Homo sapiens: one gene and its partner. The protein of the gene in region 2 purifies or fractionates together with the protein of the main gene of each other region. This does not show direct contact. Each region holds a gene or a part of one and is shown on either strand. Other genes may lie near its edges.

Evidence for each region.
Region 1: the proteins of TMEM106A (region 2) and ITGA6 purify together in Homo sapiens (co-immunoprecipitation; 2 studies listed by BioGRID and IntAct, with this or other methods). This does not show direct contact.

What each region holds. Positions count from the first base shown.
Region 1 is NC_000002.12:172,500,586-172,503,772, forward strand, and holds part of ITGA6 (integrin alpha-6 isoform b preproprotein), read left to right. Parts: intron 1-1,186; coding exon 1,187-1,294; 3' UTR 1,295-1,316; intron 1,317-2,722; exon of another isoform or gene 2,723-3,187. UniProt on the Homo sapiens protein: Integrin alpha-6/beta-1 (ITGA6:ITGB1) is a receptor for laminin on platelets. Integrin alpha-6/beta-1 (ITGA6:ITGB1) is present in oocytes and is involved in sperm-egg fusion.
Region 2 is NC_000017.11:43,217,708-43,220,541, forward strand, and holds the end of TMEM106A (transmembrane protein 106A), read left to right. Parts: coding exon 1-94; 3' UTR 95-2,334; downstream 2,335-2,834. UniProt on the Homo sapiens protein: Activates macrophages and polarizes them into M1-like macrophages through the activation of the MAPK and NF-kappaB signaling pathway.

The DNA.
Region 1 (3,187 bases), on a different chromosome or scaffold from region 2:
TGCCACTGCACTCCAGCCTGGGCAACAGAGTGAGACTCTGTCTCAAAAAAAGGAAAGAATGTTGCCAAGTTGGAGGCAGGACCAGGCCTCTTGGCTCCTGGTTTATTCTTCTTCCCACCCTATTTACTAGCACATATTATTGAAAGCTGCCCAACAAAACTCTATACTGATGGAAATGTTCTGGAGCTGCAGCATCCAGTATGGTAGCCATTAGTCATGTGTGGCGGTTAGGCACGTGGAATATGGCTGGTTCACTTGAGGCACAGAGTTTTAAATGTAATTTAAATTAATTTCAATCTGAATAGCCTCACGGAGCCAGCAGCTCCCATATATTGTACAAAGTGAATCTAGGCTTTTACCTTCATGAGTTGCTGGACTAGGAATCAGAGTTTTTCAGGAGATTTTATTTGACCAGGTTAAATTTTATAAAAGACAGTTCCATGGCCTTATGAACTAGATAAAAGTAAATAGGAAAAGTTCTCTATCACTGAACGAAGGAAATTATAGTAGAAAGTGGAATTATACTTTTATACTCATTTAGAGTGACCTAACCTGAGGAGCATTGGGTCCCTACCATTTAAGGGTTTTATGGTGCTCAGAGTTTGGGAAAATGACAGCAATCATTCTTTCATGATGGTGTATTCGAATTTGTATTGTGATTCACCCCACAGATCCAAAGGCCTCAAGTAAATGGCATTTGTTCCATAAAATTTACTGTAAAAGGCAGAAAAATACCCATAGTATATCTATATTTTATTTGGATTTGTGCTTTTATTTAGAGAATTTATTTTCTAACCTTTGTCTCAATAAACTGCCGAAGTCAATCTTTTGCCTCTTTTGGAGTTCATATTCTCCTGCAGGAAGAAACTACCCAAAGCTACAATCAGCAATGTATATACGTTTTCCCTATTAGAATGATTTTTGTCCACAAGATTTCTGTTACAAAGAGAAAAATCAATGAGCTGACTAGTGTCATCCATATAAATATTTGACCAGAGATGTATGGTGAAGGGTGTATTGAATATGACAATGAAACAATGCAGTGGCTGTTCATTGTTGGTTGACTGAAAGTGGTCTGTTTGTAAACAAGCCACTAGTAGAAGGCAGATTAAAATTTGAGATGTTCTGTTGTTTGGCTCTTATACACAAAACTGTAAAATTGACTAAATACCTTGCTTCCTTGTAGTGTGGTTTCTTCAAGAGAAATAAGAAAGATCATTATGATGCCACATATCACAAGGCTGAGATCCATGCTCAGCCATCTGATAAAGAGAGGCTTACTTCTGATGCATAGTATTGATCTACTTCTGTAATTGGTAATTGATCAATGTTTTTTAATTGCTAGCTGTGGGACCCGCTATGGTTGTGGTGGCTAACTTTAAGAACAACAGCTTGCTATGTGTGTCCCATTAACAGATGTTTCCAAATGTCCACACTGGCTTGCCTTGCTTGGATTTGTTTTATTTTATTTCACTTGAAAGCTCAGTTTTTGTTTTTTTTAATGCACAGTCTTTCGTTGCAGGTGAGTTATTTTATGTTCTTGTTAAATATCTACCACAGCAATGAAGAAAATTTGCAATATTTGTACACACAAAAAGAGACTTTTAGCCCTCCATAGTAGCCCAGTTTGCAATGTGTTATTAATTCGGTATGTAGCATTCCACTAGGGAATTCAAAGATGCATAAGAAATCATTCTAGATTTCTTGTCCATTTTGGAATTTTCCACAGATAGAAGCTGTGTCGACCGCCTAATTAACCTGTTGCATGTTGGAAATGTTGTGTTTCTCTTGGTGAGGCTTCCTCACTGTCATCTTTTTGTTCTCTTTGCTATAAAGTGATGGGGAAGGCTTGGAATGCTTTTTACTGTTGCTCAGGAATCGTTTTATGCTAGCTAAGCATGCAACTTCCATTTCCTGCATGTCTCCTACAGGTCAAAGACCATTACAACAAACTGATTATCAGCATGATGGGCTTTTATGGCCAACTTCAGAAGATGATCCCTTACCAAAGTTACCTTCCATCTACAAAATTCTAGTACAAAAAATACCCTGAACAGTTTTTATTGCAATATGTTGTGATGGAGTTTGACCATATTTCATGTATCCAGAGATTTTATCCAACCTTGGATCTCAGTTGATTTTAAATTCAAGTTTCTCTTATTTGGAAATACATGGAAATAGGAATTGCTAGTGATCCCTTTCACCATTTACGTGGGCATGAGAGGACAGAATTACTCCTGTAATCCTTTCCATGGCACTATCACAGTGAATCACAACATTGCCATTCAGCTTTACATATTACCCTTAATTTCCCTCTTTGTTTAAATGGGGTAGACAGCAGTCATATTTTGTAATAGATAGGTACTTTGGCTTTTTTTTCTTTTTTTTTGCACAGAATAATAAATGAATCCATGTAGAAATGACCTGGAACAAAACATCTTGGTCCATTTTGCCTATTGATTTAGTGATAACTATACATATAATTTTATCTTGCTCCATGGCATTTTTATAACATAACATCATTCAACATAAATGTCCTGTTACTATTGACGTCACACAATAAACACATTAACAGTTCTATCAATATCCTCATTCTTCTAAACTGCATTTTAAAGTTGAAAACACCTTTTTTTAAAAAAAGTAAATATATTTCATTTAAAAATTTAATCTCAATTCAAATTTTTTCAGATATATTCTCAGTAAAAATATACTTTGGATCAGATTGACTATTTAAATGAATTTTATATATATATATAAACACACACATTAACAGTTTAAAGGTAAATGTATTTTTGCAAAAGAAGAGAAATTAGGGAGTGCTCTGAAATTCAGTGTAGTGATGCACTTCTGAAGTCCTATGCAGCACATGATTTTTATTGCAGGAAACAGTTACTATGTGATTAATGAAATAGCTTAATTAGAAGCACAATAGCAAATCCAGGCAACATAAATGACCTCCTGGCTAATGAGAGAAGTGATATGTGTACTAGAGCCTCAGAGGAGAGAAAAAGATTATAAAGTTGACCTGTTGGAACACTGGCATATTCAAATAGTAATTTGTAAAATACTTGTGACATGATTTGCATTTTATTAGTGGGAAAGGGGCATGAAATAATCTTTGGTTTATGCCATTTAAAAATTATTCTTAATCTAATCTGATAATCAGATATTTTACATATCATATTGT
Region 2 (2,834 bases):
CCATTCAGAGCAGCTGGTCTTTCAGAGCTATGAATATGTGGACTGCCGAGGAAACGCATCTGTGCCCCACCAGCTGACCCCTCACCCACCATGACCTGTCTGCTGTCCCTGTACTCCAGGCACCTGCAACCCTGGTCTATATCTCCCACAACTCCCTGGTGACTAAGGAAGGACTACAGAGGCTTTGCCAAAGGAGAAGCCCTGCCTCATCACACCCTTACCTCCCACCCCCTCAGCACAGGAAGCTTGCTTTGAAGTTAACTTCATACACACACACTCATATCCTCCAGTTTCCCCCAGATTCTTTCAGGGGCTGCCATCAGATTCTGCCCTTGGTTAGTTTTTTGTTTTTTTTTTGGTAGAGACAGAGTCTCACTGTTGGTCCAGGTTGGTTTTGAACTCCTGGGCTCAAGCGATCCTCCCTTCTTGGCCTCCCAAAGCACTTGGATTACAGATGTGAGCCTGTGCCTGGCTGGTCTTTCTTGAGGAAAATCTGACCTGGCATTTTCTTGAGGCACCTTAGATTCCCTGGAGTGGCACCTGGCCTTTCTGTACTGAGCACCTGGTCAGTCTGAAGGGGGCATTTCACCCCAGCTCCATCAGGGCTGGCTGTCCCGTCTGAATGTGGAGAGAGCTGTAGTTTTATCTGGCTTTTAAAACATGGACCTGCCGGCTGGGCGCAGTGGCTTACACCTGTAATCCCAGTACTTTGGGAGGCCGAAGTGGGTGGATCACTTGAGGGCAGGAGTTCGTGACCAGCCTGGTCAACATGGTGAAACCTTGTCTCTACTAAAAATACAAAAATTAGCTGGGTGTGGTGGCATGCGCCTGTAATCCCAGCTACTCGGGAGGCTGAGGCAGCAGAATCACTTGAAACCGGAAGGCAGAGGTTGCAGTGAGCCAAGATCGTGCAACTGCACTCCAGCCTGGGCAAAAGAGCAAAACTTTGTCTCAAAAAAAGACTCTTTTCAAGTTTTCTACCCTCTGATAAGAAAATTTGGGGATATCCAGTGCCATCTCCAAGGACTTTCAGGGGATCATAGATGCTTTTCTGTGCCTATCTGCTTTGACCATGTGAAAAAGTGATAGTCTGCTTCTCTCTGGTAACTTGTCTGCCACCCATCTGATAGTAAGATTAGCCAAGGCCCTTTAGCCCTCTGTCCTTTCTGGTTATTGACTGTCCCTGGTTCCTAGGAAGACAGAGTTGTTCTCCAGCTAAAGCGTCTCCTCTCTATAAAGTAGTTTTACTATTCTTTTCATAGCAGGAGCCAAAATAGTAGAGGAGGGGAGAGAGGCACCTGGCACTCTGCGGGCCTGCACAGGAAAAACAGAGCCAAAGACAGAATCATTGTATAAGATATTTATTAAAGGAGAGCCTCTAAGTCCACATCCTGAGCCCATGTGAGTGGACACAGGTAGGTAAAACGGTGGGTCCAGCTGCTGTCATCTGAAAGCCTTCAGGAGATGAAGCTATCAGTATCCAGCTGAAGGCTGCTGGGTTCTGTTCCACCACCACCTTAGCACCAGGGCCCTCTCTGGTCCCAGAGGCCTCATCTCTCCTTGGGCTTTGACAATGTGGAGCAGCACATCAGCAGGGACTGGTCTAGACCCTCCCTTTCCTGTCACTTAGCTGGAGCTAAGCTCCAGATAACCCCTAGGTTCCCACTGGCTCCTAGTAGAAATAGTTTCTGTACTTTAGCAGAACAGGAAGGATATTTGTTCATTAAAGGTGGCTTGGTCTTACAGCTGGGTGCAGTGGTATATACCTGTAGTCCCAGCTACTCAGGAAGCTGAGGTGAGAGGATCTCTAGAGCCCAGGAATTCAAGTTTAACATGAGCAGCAACATTAGCAAGACCCCGTTTAAAAAAAAAAAAAGAGCTGGGCGTAATGGCGCACACCTGTAATCCCACCTACTCAGGAGGCTGAGGCAGGAGAATCACTTGAACCTGGGAGGCAGAGGTTGCAGTGAGCCAAGATCGCACCACTGCACTCCAGCCTGGGCAACAAGGGCGAGACTCTGTCTCAAAAAAAAAAAAAAAAAAAGATGGCTGTCTCTTTATCATTCAGACAGAACGATGAACACAGGTGAGCAGGGAAAGCTAATTTTGAAGTAGGATGCATGGAGAGGGAGAAGTGGTGACAGAACTTGGTAACTAGCTGGCTGGGGGAACGAGGGGAAGGAAGGAGACTGCTGTCTCCAAGCTGAGGTCAGGGTGGTGTTGGCAAGAGCGCAAAAGTCCAGGGAAGCCAGGCTGGAGCTGCTGTGTATAGACTGCCAAATGTGAAGTATTTATATTGTATTCAATAAACTATACTTAAGAGTGTTCAAAAAAGTCTCCTGGGAGTGGGAAGGGAGCTAGTGGATACTCCCTATTTCACAAACTTTTCTTTTTTTTTTTTTTTGAGACAGTTTCGCTCTGTTACCCAGGCTAGAGTGCAATGGCATGATCTTGGCACAGTGCAACCTCTGCCTCCTGTGTTCAAGTGATTCTCGTGCCTCAGACTCCCTGAGTAGTTGGGGTTACAGACATGCACCACCACACCAAATTAATTTTTGTATTTTTAGTAGAGACAGTGTTTTATCATGTTAGCCAGGCTGGTCTCAAACTCCTGGCCTCAAGCGATCTGCCCGCCTCGGCCTCCCAGAGTGCTGGGATTACAGGCATGAGCCACTGCACCTGGCAGAAACTGTTTCCTTAATGTTCTAACGGGCAGCAAGGTTTCTTCCCCAGGCCTCTGAGCCACTGATGACATATCCTGCCCTTCTGTTTTCCGTGAGATTGCTCACAGGACCTCACTCTCCCTCTTGCTCCCATTGTGTATCTCTAAAGTC